Linked DNA regions of Homo sapiens. The protein of the gene in region 1 purifies or fractionates together with the protein of each later gene. This does not show direct contact. Each region holds a gene or a part of one and is shown in the gene's direction. Other genes may lie near its edges.

What was found.
Region 2: the proteins of NIP7 (region 1) and RBM28 purify together in Homo sapiens (affinity purification with mass spectrometry; 2 studies listed by BioGRID and IntAct, with this or other methods). This does not show direct contact.

Annotation. Positions count from the first base shown.
Region 1 is NC_000016.10:69,335,910-69,352,115, forward strand, and holds NIP7 (60S ribosome subunit biogenesis protein NIP7 homolog), read left to right. Parts: upstream 1-3,862; 5' UTR 3,863-3,920; coding exon 3,921-3,976; intron 3,977-4,096; coding exon 4,097-4,183; intron 4,184-4,284; coding exon 4,285-4,423; intron 4,424-5,270; coding exon 5,271-5,411; intron 5,412-5,623; coding exon 5,624-5,743; 3' UTR 5,744-7,197; downstream 7,198-16,206. Other genes in the region: COG8 (conserved oligomeric Golgi complex subunit 8), read right to left, coding at 596-803, 3,267-3,643; TMED6 (transmembrane emp24 domain-containing protein 6 precursor), read right to left, coding at 7,498-7,731, 11,879-12,027, 13,616-13,742, 15,632-15,844.
Region 2 is NC_000007.14:128,312,086-128,324,271, reverse strand, and holds part of RBM28 (RNA-binding protein 28), read left to right. Parts: intron 1-680; coding exon 681-745; intron 746-2,847; coding exon 2,848-3,006; intron 3,007-6,165; coding exon 6,166-6,315; intron 6,316-6,538; coding exon 6,539-6,613; intron 6,614-9,251; coding exon 9,252-9,508; intron 9,509-10,997; coding exon 10,998-11,097; intron 11,098-12,186. UniProt on the Homo sapiens protein: Nucleolar component of the spliceosomal ribonucleoprotein complexes.

The DNA of each region.
Region 1 (16,206 bases):
GTGGCCCTACCTGGCTCTCCATCTTCACCTGCTTCCTAGTGCTCTCCCGCTGCTACAATCCATTAACCCTGGCTGCCTCTGTATCCCTTAAACACCTCAATTTCTGCCCACTTCAGCCCTCTCTACTTGTTCTTCACACTTTCTGGTTTGCTCTCTCCCCAGATCTTTGTGGGCTGGCACCTCCTTCTCATTTAGGTCTCAGCTTAAATGTTACCTCCCTAGAAGAGTCCTTCTTGATCACCCTACCTAAAGAAACCTACCCTAGACTCCCTTACCCCATTCCCTGTTTTTTTCTTCAGACACCACTATCTGAAATGATATCATTTCTTTGTCAATTATCAGACTTCCCATTAGCACGTAAGCTGCATGAGAGCCAGGACCACTTTATTCACACTGTATCCCCAGCATATAGAGCAGTGCTTGGCACATGATTAATATGTATTTTGAATAAATGAATGTTTTCTGTTCAGGCATACCTGGCTGGCAGAAACTGATGTGAAACATGCAAGAGTTTCTACCTAAAGCTTCAGTCCTGACCACAGAATAAATGATTACAAGAACATTACTTTGAGTCCTCTCTGGGCAAGGTGGCTACCTGGATGACAGGGATGGAAGAGTATTTCCTCTCCAGTCGGCGTACGTAGGCTGCAAGCTCCAGGGCCTCTTCATAATAACTGTTCCGGACACAGGTGTCCATGAGCTGAGGAATCTCCAGTATTTCCAAAATTTCTGTGTGCCGGTTTAGGGTCAGGCTATTCATCCGGCGGTTGGAGCTGATCTCCTCGGCTTCCTTCACAAAGTTCCTAGTAATAATCAGAAGAATGTTGATCCTTCACTGCTCTGTACCCAAACCTTAGCTACAGTTACCAAGTACCTGCTATGAACATTGGGCTGGATGATCTATCTGATTTATTCCTCACACCCCACCTATAAGGTAAGTATTATTACAATTGAGGAAATTTTTAATCCCAGAGAGGTTAAGCAACTTGTCCAAAAACATACAATTAATAAATCTAACAGATGGAGATCCAGATATGCCACTTGCTGGCTGTGGCAAGGTACTTGGCCTCTCTGAACCTATTTCCTCATTAGTAAAACGGTATATAGGGCCAGGCGCAGTGGCTCACGCCTGTAATCCCAGCACTTTGGGAGGCTGAGGTGGGCGGATCACTTGAGGCCAGGAGTTCAAGTGAAACCCCATCTCTACTAAAAATACAAAAAATTAGCCAGGCATGGTGGTGCGCGCCTGTAGTCCCAGCTACTCAGGAGGCTGAGGCAGGAGAATCACTTGAACCCAGGAGGTGGAGGTTGCGGTGAGCAGAGATGGCGCCACTGCACTGCAGCCTGGCCAACAAAGCAAGACTCCGTCTCAAAAAAAAAAAAAAAAAAAGTATATAGGACCCTCCTCATAAGGGTGTAAGAACTAAATGAGATGATGTGTGTGAAGCATTTAACATAGAACTTGAAACAGAGCGAATGCGTCAAAGTAAAAATAGTAAAAGAGACACAGTTAAATATTTAACAGTAGCTATCATTATTTTCAAAATGAAGCACTAACTGCCTAGAATCCACAATCTTTCCCCTCAGGTCTTCATCTTCTCCTATGCTAATGTTCAACCATAGTTCCTGCCACAGTCTACTTTCAACACTTCTCCATATTTGCAGAGACCTGCTTTATCAAGTCCCCTATCTATTCTGGAGCATGGAAGGGTACAAAAGCTGCTGTCAAATATCCAAAGGCTCAAAAGAAAAATTAAACTTTAATCATGAAAGGCTGGAAGGCAGAACTAGGGATAATGGAGACAGAATATGACTCACAAAGGACTTTTTTTTTTTTTTTTGAGACGGAGTCTTGCTCTGTCACCAGGCTGGAGTGCAGTGGCACGCATCATCTTGGCTCACTGCAACCTCCGCTTCTCAGGTTCAAGTAATTCTCCTGCCTCAGCCTCCCGAGTAGCTGGGACTACAAGCGCGTGCCACCACGCCCAGCTAATTGTATTTTTAGTAGACATGGGGGTTTCAGCATGTTAGCCAGGATGGCCTCGATCTCTTGACCTCGTGATCCGCCTGCCTTGGCCTCTCAAAGTGCTGGGATTACAGGTGTGAGCCACCGCACCCAGCCTTTTTTTCTTTTTTTAAGAGAGTTTCACTTTGTCACCCAGTCTGGAATGCAGTGGCACAATCACAGCCCACCGCAGCCTCGACCTCCCAAACTGGAGTGCGGTGGCACAATCATGGCTCACTGCAGCCTCAATCTCCCGGGCCCAACTGACCCCCCCACCTCAACCTCCTGTGTACCTGGGACTACAGGCGCACGCCACCACGACCAGCTAATTTTTTATTTTATAGAGACAGGGTTTTGCCATGTTGGCCAGGCTGCTCTCGAACTCCTGGGTTCAAGCCTCAGGCTCCCAAAGTGCTGGGATTACAGGCTGAGCCACCACATCCAGCCATCCAAATGGAGAGACTTTTTGATATCTGATGCCCTCAAATGCGAGGATTTCCTTGTCACCTTCCCGTCAATGGAAGTTTTGAAGCAGATGACCTCCGGTCCACGCTTTCGTATAAAATAAGTATATAAATGTGCACATATATTCAGCTCACACCTATAATGTTAACTGTGTCAGACCCGATAATAAGAGCTTTGCATGAATCCTTTTTCTTTGTGCCCACAACTGCCCTTCGAGGGAGGGACGTGCTTCTGGGTAACCAGTTCTGAATTCGAAACCTCCTAGCTGTGTCCTTGGACGTCACTAATCTCTGTCTTGACTTGCTCATATGTAAAATGGAAATAACAGGGCTGGGCGCAGTGGATTATGCCTGTAATCCCAGCGCTTTGGGAGGCCGAGGCGGACAGATCACGACATCAAAAGATCGAGACCATCCCAGCCAACATGCTGAAACCCCGTCTCTACTAAAAATCCAAAAAAATTAGCTGGGCGTGGTGGCGCGCGCCTATGGTCCCTGCTACTCAGGAGGCTGAGGCAGGAGAATCGCTTGAACCCAGGAGGCAGAGGTAGGTTGCAGCGAGCCGAGATCTCGCCACTGCACTCCAGCCTGGCGACAGGGCGAGACTCCGTCTCAAAAAAGATAAAAAAGGAATAACAGTACCTATCTCGAAGGCTGTTGTGAGGTTTAAATGGATTAATAAAGCGCTCAGCAGAGAACCTGGAACGTGGTAAACGCTTTATGTGTTAGTTATTTCTACCATCGTAAATGTCAGCTTTTACAGTTATAAAACCCCTTTAGCGCCAGGCGCGTCGCACCTGCAGCTCTGCTGGAAGCTGGGCAAACGGTCGAGCAGGCGGCCGAGCGACGCCTCCACGTCGCCAAACAGGCGGTGGATGCGCTCGGTGCACTCGGCGCCGCGGATGAAGGTCTTGTAGTTAGCGAAGGCCAAGTCGCGCGTCTGCTGCAGCAGCTGCGCCCGCTCCTCCGCCAGGCGCTCGGGCTCGCGCCGCAGCCGCTCCAGCCCCGAGCCGCTCAACTCCCGGAGGTAGCGGCCCACATCGGGCCGCTCGCGCCACTGGGCCTCGGGGAAGCGGTCCCGGAACAGCGACGCCAGGAGCCCTTCATCCTCCACCTCGCCGAGAGCCGCTGCTGTGGCCGTGGCTACCGATGGGATAGTCGCCGCGGTCGCCATCTTCCCAGCAACAACGTCACTTCCCTTCCGGACCACAAGGGGCGCTGACTCCGAACTTAGGACAGGAAGAAACAGGCACATTTCCGGTCTCTATGCTTTCTCATCCGGCCGGCTTGCTTTCCCCTGCGGTCGTCCAGACTATTGGGCGCTAGCGAGACGAACTATTGGTACGGGGCTAGAGAGGAAGGCTTTGGGATTGCCGGGGAGCAGCGAGCGACCGACTTCCGTTTCCAGTTACCAAGGCACGAGGATCCGGTGTTCCAACCCAGGGGGAAAAATGCGGCCTTTGACTGAAGAGGAGACCCGTGTCATGTTTGAGAAGATAGCGAAATAGTAGGAGCGCGCGGGGCGGACGCGGGAGTGTGTGGGTGTGGTGGCCAAGGGTGGAGTGGGGGCGCGGTGCCGGAGACCGGTTCGTTCGGGCGCGGTCTCCAGTCCTCTTTTTGCCCTCAGCATTGGGGAGAATCTTCAACTGCTGGTGGACCGGCCCGATGGCACCTACTGTTTCCGTCTGCACAACGACCGGGTGTACTATGTGAGGTGAGGCGGGGCCGGGCAGGCAGCATGGACCCAGGGGAGAGGGGTCCTGGGTCCCACGAGCCTCCTTCATCCGCAACCTTGCTCCCCCTTTACCCTTTTAGTGAGAAGATTATGAAGCTGGCCGCCAATATTTCCGGGGACAAGCTGGTGTCGCTGGGGACCTGCTTTGGAAAATTCACTAAAACCCACAAGTTTCGGTTGCACGTCACAGCTCTGGATTACCTTGCACCTTATGCCAAGGTTTGTGGGGCGGTTTCCAATTCTGCCACGGGCGATGAAGTCAAGGATTAGGCAGATTGTCCGGCAGCTTCTCTCCCACAGAGTCCCTGACAGTGTGCTTGGAGGAGTTTCAGCACATGGAGATGTGTAGAGGTCTTGCAGCTTGAGCATGGTCAGGGCTATGGGATAGGAATGCTATGTGGCTGCGTAGGGTTAGTTTTCTCCAGCGAAGTAGAAGAGCCTAGGGAGACCCAGCTAGAGATCAGAAAGCAAATAAGTGGCAGCAATGAAGACACCGGGGTCCAGAAAAAGAGCTGTTAACCTGGCCATGGAGGATGATCCTTGTAGAGTTGAGAAAATAACTTTTTCTATTTTTTTCTTTTTCTTTCTTGCTCTGTTTTTTCTTTTCATTTCTCTTTCTCTTTCTTCCTGACACAGTTTCACTCTGTCGCCCAGGCTAGAGTGCAGTGGTGCGATCTCACTGCAGCCTCCACTTTCCAGTTTCCAGTGATTCTTGTGCCTCAGTAGCTGGGATTACAGGCATGTGCCACCACACCTGGCTGATTTTTTTGTGTGTTTTTAGTAGAGACAGTGTTTCACTGTGTTGGCCAGGCTGGTCTCGAACTCCTGGCCTCAAGTGATCCACCTGCCTTGGCCTCCCAAAGTGCTGGGATTACAAGCGTGAGCCACTGCACCGGGCAACTTCCTGCATTTCTGTTCAGGAGATAGACAGTTTGAGGAAAACATGAGTCTCTCTGTTTCCCTTAAAATTATTTCAGAAAATTATTCACAGATCCAGCAGCTAGCTTGTCTGCATGGATAGAAATAGTAACGTTTTTATGTCTCTTGGATTTTAATTCTCTTATAGTATAAAGTTTGGATAAAGCCTGGTGCAGAGCAGTCCTTCCTGTATGGGAACCATGTGTTGAAATCTGGTCTGGGTCGAATCACTGAAAATACTTCTCAGTACCAGGGCGTGGTGGTGTACTCCATGGCAGACATCCCTTTGGTGAGTAGAGATGGTAGCTGTTACAGAACTCAAGTACTCTTATTCAAGAAGGGTATGTCTTCAATCTGAGTGCTTGAGAGAATAAATTCTCAGCACGTTTTGAATCCCAGAAAGACCAGAACTGTATTTTTTCCGTCTTTGTTATTTCCAGCCCTCAATATGGGCATATTGAATGACTTCAGTGAGTTAGTGTCTCTTCTTTTGAATCCCAGGGTTTTGGGGTGGCAGCCAAATCTACACAAGACTGCAGAAAAGTAGACCCCATGGCGATTGTGGTATTTCATCAAGCAGACATTGGGGAATATGTGCGGCATGAAGAGACGTTGACTTAAAACGAAGCCATTCCAAGGACAGACGGCTGTATGGAAAGGCCGAGCTTTGTTTCCTGTGTTTGTGTGGACTCCACCATCATGTTGAATTTTGTCAACACTCTGGCCTCTTCAGGGACTTCTTATTTACTGTACTCTCTATCACTGACAAATGCAGGCTGGATTCTTATTATATACAGAGATGGCTCAAAAATGGGGTTTCAGATCTTTGTGACGAAATAGAATACTGTTTCATATTTGAATCAGAGGGCTTCTTGTTCTGAGAAATAGGTTCAAAATCATTGGAACCAGGAACAAGAATAGCTTATTGTTATCTGTGATAACACTGTTTTCTAAACACAAGGATTTTCTTTTTTATTAATATGCAACATAGACATTGCCATAACAGAATAATAAACCACATGTGGGGTTTTAAAAATGAAATTTGGCTAATAGGAGCAATTCAGCTATTTTTCTATACAGTAATTGGTGTGTGGTATAGAAGAAAAACGGGTTCAAACCCCACTTCTGCCACCTACCAGCTATATGGCCTTGAATGAGTCATTCAGCTTTAATAAGGTTCATTTTCTTCTGTTTAAAAAGACACAAAACTTGAAAATCAGCTTTGGCCATCTACCTGAGAATTAGAAAGTCTGATTTTTGGAATTAGAAATCATGATTGTAGGCTGGGCACAGTGGCTCGCGCCTGTAATCCCAGCACTTTGGGAGGCCAAGGCGGACGGATCACTTGAGGTTAGGAGTTTGAGACCAGCCTGGCCAACATGGTGAAACCCCATCTCTACTAAAAAAAAAAAAAAAATTAGGTGTGGTGACACATGGCTGTGGTCCTAGTTACTTGGGAGGCTGAGGCAGGAGAATGGCTTGAACTGGGGAAGCAGAGCTTGCAGTGAGCCAAGATGGTGCCATTGCACTCCAGCCTGGGCGTGACAGAGTGAGACTCCATCTGATTGTAAAGCATCTAGTACAGTGTACAGTGCCTTGGAAATGATAGGTATGGAATAAATGGTAATTATTTTTATATTATATATATTATGTATTCCTGTTATTAAGTGTAGAGTTTTATGAGTATAATTTGATTTTATTACCTTCTTTTTTACAAGCTGTTTTCTCAGTATTTTTCTTGGATGGGATGACGCTAGGCTGGAAAGTTTTTTTCATCACTATGATTTTATAAAACAATTTTTTCTATGAACCTTTACTTACTTGACTGGATTGGACTAAAAGCACTGATCAGAGGCCACGACATAAAAATTCAGTCCCTTTGTCCTTCCCCGTGCCTCCCAAAGTTACTTTAAGATCCTTAGAATATTTCTTTAAATATTTTATAGACAAAAAATTTAAAGACTATCTGTATTGCAAAATTAAACTATTTCTTTAATGAATATATTGCTTATTTTAAGTTCCAAAGGTGAAGTCTTTAAGAATAAAACATTACCAACTCCTGCTTTTATATGTAAGCAAACTTGATTGTGGCCTTTTTCAACTCATCTTCCTTCTAAGGTTTTCTGTTAGCCTCTAAGTAGACTCAGTGAAGGCTAAGGGACTGCTATATGATGAACAGTATTTTGATGCATACATTTAATACATACTTCTTCAGAACTTTTTCACTGTTATGATTTTATTGCCATTTTGCTTTTTTAGATGTGTGCAGCAGACTAAAACATTAATGAGATAATTGATTTTTGTCCCATAACATTACAAAGCTGATTCGACTAAGCCCCAGAAGAAAACAGCCAGGGTGCTATAGTCACCTTAGCTTAGCATCTTGGCTTCTTTGTATCTGTAGTTGTTGGAACATTGAAGAGACGCTTCAAGAAATACAGTTGCAGGATCCCAGAAAGAATAATAACAAGGCTCTGGGCTGTCGACCACCAGTTCACGTAGTTATAGTTTGATTGGATAAGGAAAAAGTCAGCCATTTTCCTCATCCGGGCAAAGTTGTAGTATCGCCACATGTGAAAGATATTGTTCTGCACCTTTTGTGTGCCGTCCTATGAGAGAGACAATTTTAAGGGGGATTCTTCCAAACCCCCATCTAGCCTCACCTGAGCGCTCACTAGCACTAACCTATCTCAAGTCAAATAATTTACCCATATGATTTTAAGATGTACAATACAATGATAGTTGTTAAATGTTGTGTTTGCTATGTATGAAATATGGTCTGGATTTGAGTTTAAAATTTTTGTTTTTGTTTTATGAGACAGGGTCTCACTTGTTTGCCCAGGCAGGAGTACAGTGGCGCAGTCACAGCTCACTGCAGCCTCAACCTTCTGCGCTCAAGTGATCTTCCCACCTCAGCCTCCCTAGTAGCTGGGACTACAGGCACATGCCACTACACCCAGCTAATTTTTTTTTTTTTTTATTGTAGAGACAGGGTTTTGCCATGTTGCCCAGGCTCATCTCGAACTACTGGGCTCAAGAGATCCACCCACACTGGCCTCCCAAAGTGTTGGGATTATGGTCATGAGCCACTGCCCCGGCCTTTTGTTTTGTTTTTAAATAATGGAAAACTTCAGTACTCAAACTAGAGAGCTCTTCCAGAGGACCTCTAGATTTAGATGTACTCAGCATGTCGTTACCATTCCAGGTGATGTTTTATGTTCTCTGTATATGGTAGAAGACAAGGGCCTGTGGACTTTTTATTAAAAGGCCAGATGGTAAATATTTTTGGCTTTGCAGGCCCCTGTGACTGCTGAACTCTTGCCATTGTAGTACAAAAGCAGCCACAGACAATATGTAATTGTCAAATGAGCATGGCTGTGTTTCAAGAAAACTTCCATTTACAAAAACAGGCAGTGAGCTTTTGTGCATTTAGGAGAGACTATTAAGAAAGTGAAAAGTGGCCGGGTGCAGTGGCTCATACCTGTAATCCCAGCACTTTGGGAGGCCGAGACGGGCGGATTACCTGAGATCAGGAGTTTAAGATCAGCCTGGCCAACATGGTGAAACACCGTCTCTACTAAAAATACAAAAATTAGCCAGGTGTGGTGGCACACGCCTGTAATCCCAGCTACTCGGGAGGCTGAGGCAGGAGAACTGCTTGAGCCCGGGAGGCAGAGGTTGCAGGGAGCTGAGATCGTGCCACTGTACTCCAGCCTGGCCGACAGCACAAGACTTTGTCTCAACAAAAAAAAAAGAAAAAAAGAAAGTGAAAAGTGGCCGGGCACGGTGGCTCGTTCCTGTAATCTTAGCACTTTGGGAGGCCAAGGTGGGCAGATCACCTGAAGTCAGGAGTTCAAGACCAGCCTGGCCAACATAGTGATACCCCATCTCTACTAAAAATACAAAAATTAGCCAGGCGTGGTGGCACCCGCCTGTAATCCCAGCTACTTGGGAGACTGAAGCATAAGAATCACTTGAACCCGGGAGGCGGAGGTTGCAGTGAGCCAAAATTGTGCCACTGCATTCCAGCCTAGGTGACAAAGCGAGACTCTGTCTCAAAAAAATATAAATAAATAAATAAATAAAAATACAAAAGTTAGCTGGGCATTGTGGCACACGCCTGTAGTCCCAGCTACTCAGGAGGCCGAGGCAGGAGAATCGCTTGAACCTAGGAGGCAAAGGTTGCAGTGAGCCAAGATCACGCCACTGCACTCCAGCCTGGGAGACAGAATGAAACTCCGTCTCAAAAAAGAAAAAAGAAAGTGAAAAGACATTGCCAGAATGGGAGAAAATATCTGCAACTCACATATCTTAGGAGGGATTTGTATCCAGAATATATAAACAAAATTCAACAATAAAAAGACAATTCAGGCAGGGTGCGGTGGCTCACGCCTGTATTCCCAGCACTTTGAGAGGCTGAGCTGGACAGATCACAAGGTCAGGAGTTCAAGACCAGCCTGACCAACATGGTGAAACCCCCGTCTCTACTAAAAATACAAAATGTAGGTGGGCGTGGTGGCACGTGGCTGTAATGCCACCTACTCAGGAGGCTGAGGCAGGTGAATCACTTGAACCCAGGAGGCAAAGGTTGCAGTGAGCCGAGATCACACCACTGCACTCCAGCCTGGACGACAGACTGACTCTCTCAAAAAAAAAAAAAAAAAAAAAAAAAAAAGTAAAATGGGCAAAGGATTTTCATTTTTTTGAGATAGGGTCTCACTGTCACAGCCTTGACATCCTGGGTTCAAGCAATTCTACCTAAGCCTCCCGAGTGGCTGGGACCACAAGTATGTGCCACCACACCCGGGTCATTTAAAAAGTTGTTTTGTTTGTAGAGACAGGGTCTTACCATGTTTCCCAGGCTAGTCTCAAACTCCTGGGCTCAAGCTATCCTACCTCAGCCTCACAAAGTGCTGGGATTACAGGTGTTGGGCCAACTGGCCTGGCCTAAAATGGGCAAAGGACTCGAACAGACATTTCTCCAAAGAAGAGAGATGGCCAATACGCACGTGAAAAGATGCTCAACATTATTAATCATTAGGGAAATGCAACTCAAAACCACAAGATAACATTTCACACCCACTAGGATGACTGTAACAAAAAATAAGTGTTGATGAGGAAGTAGAGAAATTAGAACCTTCATACACTGCTAGCAAGAGTTTAAAATGGTTTAGCCACTGTGGTAAACAGTCTCCAGTAATTCCACTTTCAGGTATACACAGATGAAAACATGCTAACACAAAAACTTGCATGCAAATGTCCATAGCCACGTTATGATAGCCAAGAGGTGGAAAAACCTAAATATCCATCATGTCCATTAACTGATGAATGGATAAATAAAATGTGTATCCATAAAAGAGAGTATTATTCAGCCATAAAAAGAAAAGTACTGATACATGCTACAACATGGATGAACGTTGAGAACATGCTAAATTAAAGAAGCCAGTCTTGGCTGGGCGCGGTGGCTCATACCTGTAATCCCAGCACTTTGGGAGGCCGAGGCGGGCCAATCACCTGAGGTCAGGAATTTGAGACCAGCTTGGCCAACATGGTGAAACCCTGTCTCTACTAAAAATGCAAAAATTAGCCGGGCATGGTGAGAGGTGCCTGTAATCCCAGCTACTTGGGAGGAGGAGAATCACTTGAACCCTGGAGGCAGAGGTTGCAGTGAGCTGAGGTTGCGCCATTGCACTCCAGCCTGGACAACGAGCAAAACTCCGTCTCAAAAAATAATAAAAATAAGCCAGTCACAAAATCCCATGTACTGTGTGATTCCATTTAAATAAAGTGTATAGAGGCCAGCCACAGTGGCTCAAAGTGCTGATTAATCTCGGCACAGTAGCTCATAATGCTGAGTAATCTCAGCTCAGTGGCTCAAAGTGCTGAATCTGAGCACTTTGGCAAGCCGAGGTGGGAGGATTGCTTGAGCGCAGGAGGTTGAGGCTGCAGTGAGCTGTGATCAAGCCACTGCACACTGCAGCCTGGACAAGAGTGAGACCCTGTCTCAAAAATTAAGTATAGAATAGGTAAATCTATAGAGACAGTAGAACAGTGATAGGCAGGCCTGGGGTAATAGAATGGAGAATGACTAATGGGGAGTGGGATTTTGAGGGTGGGGTGGGTGATAAACTTCCAGAATTAGATGCTGATAGTTGCACAGCCTTGTGAATATACTAAAAAACCACTGACTTACACACTTTTAGATGGTGTACGGTGTATGAATTATATCTCAATTTAAAGAAAAACAGGCAATGGGCCAGATTTGGCCTGTCAGCCATACATAGTTTGCCAACCCTTGGTATAAAACGAAGATGGAATTTCAAGAGCTTCAAGTCGTAATTTATTTTGAGACGGTGTCTTGCTGTATCCCAGACTGGAGTGTAGTGGCGTGATCTCGGCTTACTGCAACCTCTGCCTCCCAGGGTTCAAGCGATTCTCCTGCCTCAGCCTTCCGAGTAGCTGGGATTACAGGTGCGCACCACCACGCCCAGCTAATTTTTGTATTTTTAGTAGAGACAGGGTTTCACCATGTTGGAAAGGCTGGTTTCGAACTCCTGACCTCAGGTGATCCACCCACCTCGGCCTCCCAAAGTGCTGGGATTACAGGCGTGAGCCACCGTGCCCAGCCAAGTCATAATTTATGAAGAAATTCACATCCCCTTGCCTGTTTGGTTTCTACCTAAATGAAGTCATCTTCCCTCTGAAGTTAAAAATCAGTTTCCACAGATGTTTCTCTTCCACAAAACACTTCCTTACCTCAATTGCATCCAGAGTATCATTCAGTTGTTTTCTTTCCTTCTGTTTGTGATCAGTCTCAGGCCCCTCATAGAAGACCCCAAAGTTGAGGTACACTTGCACAGAACCGAAGTGATTATGCTGATTACTTAGACAAAGCTGATAAAAACCTGTAGGAATTCTTAGATCATTACCAAGTCTTTGGTCTCCTCCCCTTTGTTAAGGATTCCCTGGAGGTATCTGTCCTCTAGTTTTGGAATTCTACTACAGGACCTTCTTTTTACTTAGAAAGTACAAAGATCCCGTTTTTGACATGGAAGACACGGACCTTATGTTAAACTTATACTAAATATTACTTATTATATTTGGCCAAATTTTAGTAACTCGTTCTTTCCATACTGGGTAGTGGCAAACAATGTTTTCTCTTTAACATATAATTCCCACATCTTGTATTAAGGAACTCCTGCTCAACAGATTGAGTTGAAGTTAAGAGCATGGTGTTTGCCTGGTCCTTGTATACAATTAAAGCTAGGGACACCATCTTGAACTTGAAATTAGGAAAGACAAAAAAAAAAAATAGATGCATAGTGCATGAAAGCAGCTCTCCTGGAGTGATTGCCTCCAAGGCGGTGTGTACAGTGACTCATGGTTTGGTTATATCTGTTGGGGCTGGGGTTGCCTCCCTTTGTGTGTGCGGGGGGGAGGGGGGCGCGGGGTGGGGAGCGGGTGGGAAGGAGCAAGGTGGAGAGGACCGGTAGAAGATGGGTGGGGTGGGATTAGAAAGGTGTGGCAGTGTTTGAAAGTCAAAATGATTGGAAGGCACTACTGGCATGTAGGGGCCAAAGATGTTCAAGATCTTTTTTTTTTTTAGACGAGTCTCGCTCTGTTGCCCAGACCGGAGTGCAATGGCGCGCTCTCGGCCCACTGCAGTCTCTGCCTCCAGGTTCAAGCAATTCTCTTGCCTCAGCCTCCCAGGTAGCTGGGATTACAGGCGCCTGCCACCACACCCAGCTAATTTTTGTATTTTTAGTAGAGACGGGGTTTCACCATATTGGTCAGGCTGGTCGCAAACTCCTGACCTCAGGTGATCCGCCCACCTTGGCCTCCCAAAGTGCTGAGATTACAGGTGTGAGCCACCACGCCCAGCCTGTTCAAGATCTTTTAACACTGATACACATGCTGTGCTTCATAGTGAAGGACTGTCTGATGCCCCTGTTGAGAAAATGTCTTTTTTAGTGCAGCTGGCTATTAAAGAGGGCAGTTAAGACACTGCTGCTCTCCAAAGTGGGACAGGCTTGACCTGGCTGGAGGAGTGCTTTGCTGTGGAGTGTGGATATCTCACATGGATATCATGCATTTTCTTTTGTTCTGAATCTGCTTTTAGTAACTGACTCAAATATTCTGATGACTGGAAAGACATGCTTCCCTGTAATCCATTTGTTAATTGGAATTCTGTATTATAAATGGGTCTCTGTTTTTTGGTCACTTTCCCAGAATCTGATTAACTGGAGATGATGAGATAAAATTGAGCGGCTGAACCCTAGACTTAGAATGCTCACCTGGAGTGTTGCCCCCAAATCGTCAGTAGACTGCCACTTGGCATCCTTGGAGGTCAGCAGCCTCCAGGAACACTGGTTTTTGGTGTTAAAGGCTGAATTTTTTTCCTACTGTTAAAACATCTCTGTATACTTCCTCATTATTTCTGTAATTTCATAGGACCCTATGATTATTATAATAGCCATGGTAATGAAAACAGACCTGTCTCTTGGGTAGAGAAGTTAATCTGGCCCCGAACACCCTGGGAGGTGTCTATGAGAAATCCCTGTGGGTTATGTGCCGTGGCAGCAACATGCCGGTCATGTGACATCCCCACTGTCCGCTGAACCTGCCAAGACACATTAAATAGGTAGCAGAACCCCTGCTACATCACGAGGAAGCCAGCTGAGTGGTAAGATTGACGTCCCACGGTCATCAGCACAGCGGTCTCTGTCTGGGGTGGGACTGCCCAACCCCCTGCTGGGGTTTGGAGTTGATTGGAGGATTCTGAGGTATCACAGTGATGGTGTTAAGGGGAGGCAGCACAGCATTGCTGAACGTCTGCAATGTAAGAAACAGTACAGCAGGACAAAGAACTGCCCAGAATGCCAACAGCACCCGTGTGAAGAAGACATGCCTTGCTCGGAACACACAGCTAGTGTGGATCCACTAAAATGTATGATTCTGGGCCGGGCGCGGTGGCTCACGCCTGTAATCCCAGCACTTTGGGAGGCCGAGGTGGGCAGATTACAAGGTCAGGAGTTCGAGACCAGCCTGGCTAACATGGTGAAACCCTGTCTCTACTTAAAAAATACAAAAATTAGCCTGGCATGGTGGCGTGCGCCTATAATCCCAGCTACTTTGGAGGCTGAGGCAGGAGAATTGCTTGAACCCGGGAGGCAGGGATTGCAGTGACTCGAGATCATGCCACTGCACTCCAGCCTGAGCGACAGAGCAACACTCTGTCAAAAAAAAAAAAAAAAAAGTACGATTCTGGCTGTAGAATTTTTTATTTTTTTTGAGACGGAGTCTTGCTCTGTCACCCAGGCTGGAGTGCAGTGATCTTGGCTCACTGCAACCTCCACCTCCCAGGTTCAAGCGATTCTCCTGCCTCAGCCACCCAAGTAGCTGGGATTACAGGCACATGCCACCAAGCCCGGCTAATTTTTGTATTTTTAGTAGAGATGCGTTTTCACCATATTGGCCAAGGTGGTCTCGAACTCCTGACCTCAGGTGATCCGCCTGCCTCAGCCTCCCAAAGTGCTGGGATGACAGATGTGAGCCACCGCACCCGGCCTGGCTGTAGAGTTCTTGAATGAACTTGCTTGGTGGTTGAGCTCCCCAATGATGTCCCAGATTTGGGCATTTGCTGCTTGGCAGTGCACACCTACAACAAGCACTCCATGGACACTTGCTCCCAAGCTAGATCTTGATTAGGCCAGGCCACAGTGAGCTTAGTAGTGGCTGCTGTTCTAATAGAAATTCAGAGGTAAGAAAAGTCTCTGATAAGTTTATTTAAAATAAATGTTGTTACAGTGGAGTAAGATCAACAAAGTCTATTACTATGTAAACAAAAATTAGAAAGTTAACCGATTTCTAAGATAAAGAACAAAGGAAATGAACAGCCTCTAACTTTCATACTGAGTTCACCATCCTTGGACAGCATGATATAAGACCATAGTATGGGTAAAAGTACTTGACCTTTGAATAAGTAACTTGAAAACACTTACCGTCCTAAAAAAAAAAAATAGGATTAACTGGCCGAATACAAAAAACTTGACCTAGTGAATCTCTGACTTGCCAGAATTGCTCCTAAAGGCAGCAGAACCTTTACTCCCCCACCCCATAAGCTGAAGCAGCCTTCTTTGAAATCTCTGGATCAGTCTCCAAAGCACCATTATCCAATTTTGTTTTAATATATTAAAAATGTATTCTCTCCCCTCTCATCCCCAAATCCGAGTACATGTAATGATTACCTCTTCAGGGAGAGGCACCCCGTCTGCCCCATGGCTTTGAGCATGGCCCCTGATGTAAGAAGCCAAACCATATGTTTTAGCTCCTGTTGGTGATTATTCACCCAGCTGGAGTTTCCCTCTAACTGCAGGTCCATTTCATTAACAGGTGGGGAATCACAGCATAATAAAGACAACCAGACCTTGTTTTGGCCTAAAACCTGACCCACTTTATGAGTAAAGGAGAAAAAAAAAAGCCCCCCAGTATGGCCAGTCACCCACATACCTCGTAACTGAAATAGAAGTATCCAGTCTGGTGGGCAAATTGCCAAAAGCATTCCGTGCCTCCTGGAGGTATCATGATGGCAAAGTCATATCGATCAGCTCCACGGAAGAGTGGCTGGTCCCCAGAGCCACTTAGAGGTTCTGTCTTCTGGCTCCTGGCAGACGTCACTAGATTCAGAACGACCAGCCCAGCCCCAAAGAGCAAAGGGGACATGCCGCTTTCTGGAGCCTCCTCTGCAGGTGAACTGCTCGCAGCCCAGGGAAATCAAGTCGTTCAGACAACCGCTGGGCTAATGATTAACTCCACAAGTCACATTACGGCCCATTTCAGGGCCACACATAGATATTCATCATAGAACTGCCATGATACTCCCATGTTTGGCTCGCAGGAGGAAATTTTGCTTTCACCTCAAAAACTCAGTGGCTTACCAAACCTACTTCATGGGTGCTACATAGAATCTACCACCTCAGAAGAGGTCTTTCCACCCTTCATTAGGGCTGTCATTTTTTAGTTCCTGCTTCTTGGGGATATAATAGTGGGTAAGTTTACAACTTCTGAATACACTGACAAAAAGT
Region 2 (12,186 bases), on another chromosome or scaffold:
TTCTTGTCATCATTTCTAATAAGAGGTTTTCATTATGACTAAAATTACTCTTTTGGATTATTCATGGATTTAAAATGTGCACCCAATACTTTCCTTTAGTGTCAGAAAGACAAAAAAATTAGCTTTAAATTTTTAAAAAAATTCTTCTAGGTCACACAGCATTTATCAGCTCACCTCCTCCATAGCTTCACAGCCTGTACTAGTAATGTCCTTTAGCCTTCGACACCAGCCTTCTATGGCAACATAACTGTTTTCGGCTGGCTTATCTCACTGTTTAGTAATGGACCTCAAGTATATAAGGAACAGCAAAGTTAAGTTCCAAGGGCAGATTATAGGTGGAACATTGTGCATTCTAAATGCCCAAAATGTACTTATGTTCCATACTTCTTCTAGGCCTTTCTTTCTGACTTTGGGCATGTACGTGAAGATTCTTTGAGGGGAGAGAAGGAGAAGAGGAATAAAATCACAAAATGTTTAGAGTTTTAGTCCTTGAGAGCAGCTCTGAGCCCAGAACTTAGCCCTGTAGCCTATTTCTGGACCTAACCAAATGCCACCGTGTCCTGGCCAAGATAGTCCTCTGGGCCCTGTACAAAGAGTTTGCATCATTCAAATCACATTCCTCTTGTTGCTCAGTGAAAATTCCCTTGTTGATGTCTTGGCCTTTTTCCCTCTTTCTGCAGTGATTCGTGCTGGGACGAAGGCTGCAGAGGGTGTGAGTGCTGCTGATATGGCCAAAAGAGAACGGGTGAGTAGATTAGGCATTGACCTTCACGTTCTGCGTGGCCTATAAATCAATCAAAAATAGTTATCGAATGCTAGATGTGCTCATCAAAGAGCCCAGTATGGTCACAGACCATACTTATTGCCCTGTTAGGGAGAAAAGCACATAGGTGAAATAGCAAGTAACCCAACATCATACATAGTATTCTATCTGTTTTGTATGCTGGTATAAAAGAACTGTGTCTTATTATTTGTTTCCCTAGTGCTTGGCAGTAAATGTTTGCTGAACACATGCTGCTACATCATGCAGTAGACAGTCAGAGGCTATTGCTACATGTAATTAGGTGTCAGTATAAACACAGAATAATGTAAAAGAGGAAGATCAGAATGAGCTGGAGTTATTAGAGAAGGGAGAAGATATGGCTCTTGAAAGGGGTAGCTGTCAGTTGGGAGGAGTTATAATCTCCAGATTATAAAATCATTTTAGAAAAACTCCATTTTATGGATGTTTCCGATGTTAACCGATAACTCATATTCCTTTGCTGCTTGGTAATGTTCCCAGTAATTTTTACTTTTTCCCATATAACTTACTTTCAAAAAGCCAAGCCAGCCTAGAAGGGTAAAGATGCATAACTGTGAACAGAATTAGCTATGGAACCTTAACATGCAGATGAGGAACAGGGGTGAGAGTGTAATGACAGCAGGAGGCAGTGCGTCTTTTTTTCAGTGGGCACAGATTCTGCACTAGTGTTTTCAACTTTTGTGGTAGTGAACACCTAGAAATCATAGGCTCTGGAGACCCATCCTTAACTGGAGAAATTACAGAAAATTTTAAAGCCTCAATTTTATAAGGGCACTATATACCCTTGTCTGATCACAGTGCAATAATGACATATTTAATTTAAAACTAATTTTGTTAGCAAAAAGCTCATTCAATGATAGGTATGCATTATAAATTCACAGCAGGCACAGCTTTTCCTGACAGAAAAATAGTCTGTTGAACTTAAACATGATAGCCTTTTCAGATGTTCCTTTAATAGTCGTTTTCCAAGGGATTTGTTTATTTTGTGATCTGTTGGTACTTTTACCAAACAAGAAGCAGCAGGACTGAGAAGACTTGACAAAAGAAAAACTTTTAATTGAAAACTTTTTTCTACCAACTTGGTTTAAAAAAAACTAATTGGGAGAAGAATGTCATCTTTCATTTCATTTTAGACACAGATCACGCAGGAACTGGGGTTTTGTGGCAGCATAGTTGAGGGTATTGCTCTAAGAGCAAAATATGGTTCTGTGGTCATTGATACTCCTTTGCCTCAGGGTGGCAGAGTTGAGACAACACAGCATTCTGTCAAGTATTCTTTGAATAACTTCCATTTCCTTTTGGAAGGATTAGATAATCAGTTGAGCTGGTGGGTAGATGAGGACTGGGCATAGATATTAATCACAGTATTATTTGTTGTTTGTTCTGAGCTACATTTTGAGCTAGGGAATTTTTTTTTTTTTTTGACCGAATTTCACTCTTGCTGCCCAGGCTGGAGTGCAATGGCACGATCCTGGCTCACCACAACCTCCGGCTCCCAGGTTCAAGCGATTCTCCTGCTTCAGCCTCCCGAGTAGCTGGGATTACAGGCATGCACTACTATGCCTGGCTAATTTTTGTATTTTTAGTAGAGACAGGGTTTCACCATGTTGGCCAGGCTGATCTTGAACTCCTGACCTCGGGTGATCTGCCTGCCCTGGCCTCCCAAAGTGCTCGGATTACAGGCATGAGCCACCCTGCCCAGCCTTATATTATCTCATTTTGGCCTCACCTCAGTGCTCAGAGACCTTGATCTACTGTTTCGTTTTATAGATGAAAAATTGTGGCTTTAAAATTTTATGTAATTTCTCCAGTTAGGGATGGGTCTCCAGAGCCTATGATTTTACTATTACCCACCCACCATCTTGTTCCCTTGGACTTTTCTTTCCCTATACTAGGCATTGTAAAGCTGCGGTGTGGGCAGTTTCCATCCGTTTTCTATATGTGTGGTTATGGGATGAGGATCATAATTCTTTCCTTTTGGAGAATTATGAGCCTACCTCTTAAAAAGAGTGGGTTGTACTGTTAACCATTGGTTGTTCTTTCAGTTTGAGCTGCTGAAGCATCAGAAACTCAAGGACCAGAATATCTTTGTCTCCCGAACCAGGCTCTGCCTGCACAATCTCCCAAAGGCTGTAGATGACAAACAGCTCAGAAAGCTGCTGCTGAGTGCTACTAGTGGAGAGAAAGGGGTGCGCATCAAGGAGGTGAGACGTGGCCCTGACCATTTTGGAGCTTTCATTCTGATCTTGGGTCAGATCAAGCATTTCCCTCAGGCTGTGGTGCCAGATTTTGTTTGTTTGTTTTGAGACGAAGTCTCACTCTGTTGCCCAGGCTGTAGTGCAGCGGTGCAATCTTGACTCACTGCAACCTCCTCCTCCTGGGCTCAAGCAGTTCTCCTGCCTCAGCCCCCTGAATAGCTGGGACTATAGGCGTGCGCCACCACGCCTGGCTAATTTTTGTATTTTTAGTAGAGAAGGGATTGCACCATGTTAGCCAGGCTGGTCTCGAACTCCTGACCTCAAGTGATCTGCCCACCTCGGCCTCCCAAAGTGCTAGGATTACAGGCGTGAGCCACTGTGCCGGGCCATCAACAGACTTTCTTCTGGACATGTTGTCAGCATGCATAGCTGAGTTTAGCAGTTTCTTGGTTTTGTTCTTTTTCTTCTAAGAATTGTCTTTTACATCTGACTGAATTACAGCAGAATGCAAGGAAATCTCTGTCTGCATGAATTAATTTAGCAAGCATTTATTAAATGCCTGTTGTGTGCTTAGCATTATACTTTGTGCTATCATGTGAATTTTCTTGCAGAGAAAATAATCTGCTTTGCTTTTTGGAAGAGTATTTTACTCCTAGTTAGATTCTTACCCTGTGTTCAGAGTCCCCTATGCCTTGTGGTCAACACAGGAAGCCATGTAGATGTTCAGCAGTTGAATTAGAAAAACACTGGGTTCACACCAACTTGGTTAGACTCTGTGTGAGTACAGAACTTTTCTGCCTCCACATTCCCCTTTGCGTATTTCTCTTTTCTTTTTTTTCTTTTCTTCCTTTCTTTTTTTTTTTTTAGATGTGGTCTTGCTCTGTCTTTGGCTGGAGTGCAGTGGCACCATCTCGGGTCACTGCAAACCGCCACCCCCCCCCCCCCCAAGCTCAAGCAATCCTCCCACCTCAGCCTCCCAAGTAGTTGGGCCTATAGTTACACACCACCATGCCTGGCTAATTTCTTTCTTTCTTTCTTTTTTTTTTTTTTTTTTTTGAGACGGAGTCTCACTCTGTCGTTAAGCTGGAGTGCAGTGGCATGATCTCGGCTCAACGCAACCTCCGCCTCCCGGGTTCAAGCGATTCTCTTGCCTCAGCTTCCCGAGTAGCTGGGACTACAGGCATGCACCACCACGCCCAGCTGATTTTTGTATTTTTAGTGGAGACGGGGTTTCACCATGTTGCCAAGATGGTCTCGATCTCTTGACCTCAAGTGATCCGCCTGCCTCGGCCTCCCAAAGTGCTGGGATTACAGGCGTGAGCCACCTCGCCCAGCCCATGCTTGACTAATTTCTTGTTTTTGGTAGAGACAGGGTTTTGTCATGTTGCCCAGGCTGGTCGCAAATTCCTGAGCTCAGATGATTCCCCTGCTTCGGCCTCCCACAGTGCTGGAATTATAACAGTGAACCACTGGGCCTGGCCTTGCATATCTCTGTCATACTGGTTACTATTACCCTGGCCTCAAACTGTCTGTCAGTCACTTCTCCCCACTAGACTGAGTTTTTGAGGCAAGCGTTATCTCATTATCCCCAATCCTTGGTGTAGTACCTGGTACATAGTCATCTCTTAGTCAATATTTATTTTAAAAGTACCATTGCCAATATTTTGGGCCTGCTTTACTCTGTTTCGCTACCATAAACTGTTTTCCTAATCCCTGAAAACCTCTTCAAAATGTATGGATTGGTATTTGGGAGATTACTTGAGAGAATGTGAATATATCAGCACATATCTGACACCACAGTTAGTAAAACTGCTCAGTGTTACTGGTTATAGGGGAGGGACAGTTGTGTAATTTCTCCTATCATCCGAATACTTAGTGCCTACATATTTAACACCTGTCATAATTTAGAGAAATTTATGTTTATTCTAGAATATTTTGCATTATGTTGAATTTTCCTCTTAATTCTTTCCTATTTGTATGTATAGTGTCTCAGTAAGATGGTAAGCATCTTGAGAACAGGATCTTCATTATATGCTTCTCTTGATTCCCTTACAGTGTATGACAGTTCTAGGCACAGAGTGGACACTGGACATAAACTAAATGCGGCATCCATGCATCCCCAATACTTAGCTGTTTCCATTACATGAGAACGACAGCTTTGGTAGTAATGGCATGTAAATGATCAGTTTTCTCGAAAAATCCTACCATACTTTGGTGCCCCAGATGTTTACTACATCTGGCTTAAGGATTTAAGGGAAAACCACACTAGAGAGGATCTGAGCTGCAAGCAAAGAGAGCTGAAACTTCTTCCTATATTTCTGACCCTGTATGTTGGAGAGACTTTTTCCTATGCTTGAAATGTCTTTCTTATCTAAAGCCATCAGGCCTTCCTCCTTTCCTTCTTCAATAATTTCCTTCCTGAGGGCTTTTTTCAGTTGTAAGATCTGTGGACAGTACTCCATCCTCGGCAGCAACTTGTTACACGCTTAAAATACCATGTACCTCTCAATTTGTATGTATCGCAAACAGTTGTGTTTGTATTGTGTTTGTTTTTTAACATCCATACCGCTTTATAAATTTTCTTTAGGAAGTTTTGTTTATGTGCTTTTTTTTAGGTCTCTGTTGATGTCTATAAGCTAGTAGAAAGCAAGAAAATACAATTTTAATCTGTTTGATGGTCTTAGTAGGTAAATTCTAATAAGATGGACACACATAAGTGTTATTCCAGTGTGATTTTTGTGATGGTGGTATAAATGAAGATTATGTTTCAATAACCTGATTTTTTTTTTTTTTTTTTGAGACAGGGTCTCACTCTGTTGCCCAGGCTGGAGTGCAGTGGTGCCATCATGGCTCACTGTAACTTCAACCTCCCCGGGCTCAGGTGATCCTCCTGCTTCAGCCTCTTGAGTAGCTGAGGTGCCACCACACTGGCTAATTTTTTGTATTTTTTGTAGAGACAAGGTTTTGCCATGTTGCCTAGGCTGGTCTCAAACTCCTGGCCTCAAGCAATCCTCCTGTCTCGGCCTCCCAAGGTGCTAGGATTACAGGCATGAACCACCATGCCCACCCAATAGCCTGATTTCTTATTGACTCTATTAAAGCAGTTCATGTCAGGCAAGTCTTCTCATTCTGTAATTACTGATTTTTTTCTTGCTCTACTCATAGTGTAGAGTGATGCGAGACCTCAAAGGAGTTCATGGGAACATGAAGGGTCAGTCCCTGGGCTACGCCTTTGCGGAGTTCCAAGAGCACGAGCATGCCCTGAAAGCCCTCCGCCTCATCAACAACAATCCAGAAATCTTTGGGCCTCTGAAGGTAGGCCTTGTCCTCTGGGGAGACTTGTTCCCTTAGGACCACTTGCAGGAAACCAGCCTTCTCCTTTATGCCTAGTGTCCTCTGACATTTGAGGGGTGGGAAACAGTGGCAAGTGGACAAAAAAAAGGTGGGTTGGGGGAGGATGTGTGAAGGGGAAAAACTCAGCTCATTGCATGCACAGATTAAGAAGTCTAATGAATGGCATTCTGTCTCCCTCTGACAGAGACCAATAGTGGAGTTCTCTTTAGAAGATCGAAGAAAACTTAAAATGAAGGAATTAAGGATCCAGCGCAGCTTGGTACAGAAATTAAATGGTCCATATTTTTAAGGACATAAACTCTTCTATTTTGTTCAATTTGTGCTTCTGCTCTCTTAGAGTAGTTCTCCCCTCAGTTAGGTTTTTTTGCTCCTAGTTCCCTTTACTCCCAGTTCCCTAAGCCTCTCCAGGCCATCTTCTTATCTGCTGGCCCATGTCTGATAGCTCTACAGCAGAAGGGAAAGGAAGGAGAGAGGAAGCAGACCAATGTTATTTCCAGTCAGCCGTTTTTTACAGTGTTTGGTGATAGTACGTGCCAAAATTAATGGTTGAGGTTAAGGTTTCCCATTACCTGTAGATTTCAGTTATCTCTTCCATATTTTCTTTTATTAGTTGGCTCCAGAAGTGTGAAGCCTGATAGTTTTAGTACTGTTTTTAATCTGGTGTGGTATAGAAGGTGGAGCAGGGACTTTAGGAATACGTGTACTCATGCTCATACTCTGGCTCTGCCCTTTTTGCTGCATGTTCCTTGGCAGTTATTACCGCTCTGAACTTCAGTTTGTAAAATGGGGTGGACAACATCTGCCTCACATGATTGCTGAGGACTAAATGAGATAATACATGTCCATCGTCTAGCATACTGCATGGTCAGCACGCAGTCAGTACTCATTCTCTTACCCATCTTCCCCCAGGACATACAGGGCCAGATTATTCTTGACTCTGTCATTCTTAGAGCTCTCATTGATATTGCACAGCAAAGTTCCCTTGCATATACAGCAAACATTTGTAGTCTTTGTGGTATATACCAAGAGGATTACCAACAGACGAGCCATTCTGGTGGTTAATGCAGTGGCCCTAGGTTGGAAAATCTGGGATCTGGTTATTGTTCAAGGCAACTTTGTTCCCCAGATAATAGAATTGTTTATTACTGTTAGCCATTGTTTCAGAGGTGATTCTGAAGCTACCAGTTTTGTTTGTTTTTCTGTTTGAGATGGAGTCTTGCTGTGTCGCTCAGTTTGGAGTGCAGTGGCACAATCTCAGTTCACTGCAACCTCCACCTTCTGGGTTCAAGTGATTCTCTTGCCTCAGCCTCCTGAGTAGCTGGGACTACAGGTGCACACCACCATACCCGGCTAATTTTTGTATTTTTTTAGTAGAGACAGGGTTTCACCATGTTGGCCAGGCTGGTCTCGAACTCCTGACTTCAAGTGATCCACCTGCCTCAGCCTCCCAAAGTGCTGGGATTACAGGCGTGAGTCACTGAGCCCAGCCTAGTTTGTTTTTTAACATCCAAATTACTTTATTTGTTGCCTGGATTTATATTCATACTGTTCTTTCTGTGTAAAAATGCCTCTACTCACTTTGCATATGCAGATCAAATGATCTCTTTCAAGTTGCATGCCTCCACCTCTCTCAAAAGATATAAGGCCCTCTTTACTTGATTTTCATGAACTTCCTTAAGCTGTGTAGTTTTTTTTACTTTGGTTTATTTGTGAATGCATCTCTTATCTCCACCTGGCTGTGAGTCCTGAAGGGTAGACACTATTTTTTTGTATCCTGGAAACAGACTGGCACACACTAGGCATATAATAAATGTTCATTGTATCGTTGTACCTATCTAGATTTCTAAGGTGAAAGGGAAGAACAACACACACTTATCATTACATTAATTTCACTTGAATCTTCTGTTTCTTCCACTTCAGTGCAAATACTTCTATAACTTCCTTGATGCCTTCCTTCCCACAGCATCTTTTTCTTGTCGTCTTTACTTCATTTATTCCATTCCTGATGTTCTTCCTTTCTTGAAAACGATCAGTTTCTGACCTATGTCATTTTTCTTCTCTCTGAAGAGATTATTTCGCATTTCTTGCAGACAGGTCTACTGGCAACAAATTCTCTCCATTTTCTTTTGTCTGAGTAAGTCTTTTCCTTCACTTTTGAAGGATAAGTTTATCGGATACAGGATTGTAGGTTGGTGATTTTTTTTTCTTTTAAAAATTTAAATATTAAATATCTCACTTCACTCCCTTCTTGCTTACATGGTTTCTGAAGAGAAGTCTTGGAAATCTCTCTCAATCTACTCTGGTTTGGGAGGGTGCCTATTAAAAACAAAAGAGAGAGAGATTTGATGTAATCTCATCCTTGTTCCTCTATAGGTAAAATTTTTCCCCTGTCTGGCTTCTTTCAAGATTTTATCTTTGATTTTCTGCAGTTTGTCTATGATATGACTGGTTGTAAATTGTTTAGTATTTATCTTATTTGGTCTTCTCTGAGTTCCTAGATCTGTGGTTTAGTGACTGTCATTAGTTTTGAAAAATTCTCAGCCCTTATTACTTCATTATCTTTTCTGTTGCTTGCTTTCTTCTTGTATTCTCCTTCTACATAGGTTACACCTTTGATAATTGTCCCACCTACTGACTTTTGAATTTTGGGCATGCACTCTCCCTTATTTCTGTGTTATGGGAAGGGGAATGGTTATTTTGTGCCCCCCACCCAGTAACCATCTGTTACTGTGGCAGGGCTTGTGATCTACATGTATTCACTTTCCTCTAGTCTCCAATTGTGTGGGGGAAGAATTCCTCTTCTTTCATCTAGCTCACATAAAGCTCATCTTCTGCTGAGTATTTGCAGCAAACAAAGCTCATCCAGAAACCAGATGGCATTTTCTTGTTTTATGCAGCAAAAAATGAGATCCAAGCCTGCAACTGGTGAGCCTCAGAAGGGGCAACCAGAGCCTGCAAAAGACCAGCAACAGAAGGCAGCTCAACACCACACAGAGGAACAAAGCAAGGTGCCCCCAGAGCAGAAGAGAAAGGCGGGCTCTACCTCATGGACCGGGTTCCAGACCAAGGCTGAAGTGGAGCAGGTGGAGCTGCCTGATGGAAAGAAGAGAAGAAAGGTCCTGGCGCTCCCCTCACACCGAGGCCCCAAAATCAGGTGAGATGCAGGAGGGCAGAAGCACAGAACAGTGGGTGGGTTCTAAGCGGGTTTGTTTTTGCTGAGTTATTTTCTCTTTGTGGCATTTGTTTGGTTGAAAAGGATGTTTGGTGCTATGTATTCCCACACATGGGGTTAACACGCGAGTCTTCAACACCATCAGAGATGTCACTCTTAGATCAATGGCAGAGGGGCCTCCTAGGGCAGGCTTTTGTGCCCCTTTTCTCCTCTTTTGAAGAGCTTCCTCTTGTCCAGATGGCCATCTCTGCCAGCTGAGACCACATACTTGAGGTTCAGTTGTAGTTTCTGTTTGGGACAGCAGATTAGTGCTCTACAAAAGTAAATCTTTACAAAATATTTGTTAAATAAATGAAGGTTTTTGAGATATCCATGGGGTTTTATTTATTTATTTATTTTATTTTTAGAGACAGTGTATTATTCAGTTCTTCCACTGCTATAAAGAAATACCTGAGACTGGGTAATTTATAAAGAAAAGAGGCTTGGCTGGGCGCGGTGGCTCACGCCTGTAATCCCAGCACTTTGGGAGGCCGAGGCGGGTGGATCACGAGGTCAGGAGATCGAGACCATCCTGGTTAACATGCTGAAACCCCGTCTCTACTAAAAATACAAAAAATTAGCTGGGTGCGGTGGCGGGCGCCTGTAGTCCCAGCTACTGGGGAGGCTGAGGCAGGAGAATGGCGTGAACCCGGGAGGCGGAGCTTGCAGTGAGCCGAGATCACGCCACTGCACTCTGGCCTGGGCGAAAGAGCGAGACTCCGTCTCAAAAAAAAAAAAGAAAAGAAAAGAGGCTTAATTGGCTCATGGTTCCACAGGCTGTACAGGAAGCATGACAGCAGCTGCTCATCTTCTAGGGAGGCCTCAGGAAACTTAATCATAGTGGAAGGTGAAGTGGGAGCTGGCACATCACATGGCCAGGAGCAGGGGGGAGTGTTTTAAACAACCAGATCTTGTGGTAACTCATTCACCGTCACGAGAACAGCACTGAGGGGATGGCGCTAAACCATTCATGAAGGAGTCATCCCCATGATCCAGTCACCTCCCACCAGGCCCAGCCTTCAACACTGGGGATTACAATTCAACGTGAGATTTGAGCAAGGACACAGATCCAAACCATGTCACAGGGTCTTGCTCTGTTGCCCAGGCTAGAGTGCAGTGGCATGATCATAGCGCACTGTAACCTCAACTCCTGGACTCAATCCACCTTCCTCAGCCTCCTGAGTAGCTGGGACTTTTTAATTTCGTTGTAGTAGAGACGGGGGATTGCTATGTTGCATAGGCTGGTCTCAAACTCCTGGCATCAAGCAGTCCTAAGTATACAAATGTTGAGCTTTCAGAGGGTCTGTTGCAGTATCCCTTTTTAGAATGACTTCACTTATCATGGGCTTGGGAAGGGCCAGTGTACAAAGAGAACCTAGGGGTGTCAAATTAGAAGAAGGACTCAAGGTGACACTCAGCCATGTTATTTCAGGTTGCGGGACAAAGGCAAAGTGAAGCCCGTCCATCCCAAAAAGCCAAAGCCACAGATAAACCAGTGGAAGCAGGAGAAGCAGCAATTATCGTCCGAGCAGGTGAGTTCTGCAGGACATACAGCTTTGGTATGGCATGGTTCTGCCAGGTCGTAGCCATGTTTGTACCTTGGTTAGTTGAGCAAAAAAGAAAAAAAGAAAGACTTCTGTGTAGGACGGTAGCTTTTTAGAGAATGTTGAGCTATACAATCTTAAAAGTGGAGAGAAAAAAGTAAAATGAACCTCCACGTATCTGTTCCTGTGTTTCAGCAGTCTCCTTGTTTTACATATTCCCCATAACATGCTTTCCCCACTAGAGTATATTAAAGCAAAGCCCATTTCACATGTAAATGCGTCTCATATGAAAATGAAACATATTGCTCAGAAAAACCTCAGAGTGCATCTCTAACTGATCAGGCCTTAAACACACACACCTTATGCCATTATAATATCTAATGAAACTAATAAGCCCTTTATCATCTACTACACAAATGATATATTAAATCCATATTAAAATTTGCCAAATTGCCTGAAAAAAATTTTTTTATACTTGGTTAGTATGAGTCGGGATCCAAAGTCCCACATTATACTTGGGTTTTTAATTTCTTAAATCATTTTTTTCTTCTCTAATATCCATTCTCCCTTACCACCCTTTTTTCCATGCTATTCATTTATTGGAGAAACCAGGTCATTTGTGTTACATTTTTAATTTAGCCATTTGCTTCTTTGTGGTGTCATTTAACTTGTCTCTGTGACACCCCCATATTGCCTGTCATCTGGTAGTTAGTTCGGTCTGGTAGCTTGATCAAGTTCAGTTTTCTTTTTTTAAAAATTTTTTTGAGGTGGAGTTTTGCTCTTGTTGCCTAGGCTGGAGTGCAATGGCGCAATCTCGGCTCACTGCAACCTCCGCCTCCAGGAGTAGCCTCCCGAGTAGCTGGAATTACAGGCATGCGCCACCATGCCCAGCTAATTTTGTATTTTAGTAGAGACGGGGTTTCACCATGTTGACCAGGCTGGCCTTGAACTCTTGACCTCAGGTGATTCGCCTGCCTCGGCCTCCCAAAGTGCTGGGATTACAGGTGTGAGCCACCGTGCTTGGCCTCAAGTTCAGTTTTCTTGAAGAGAGTATTTCATAGGTGGTGTGTGTGTTTC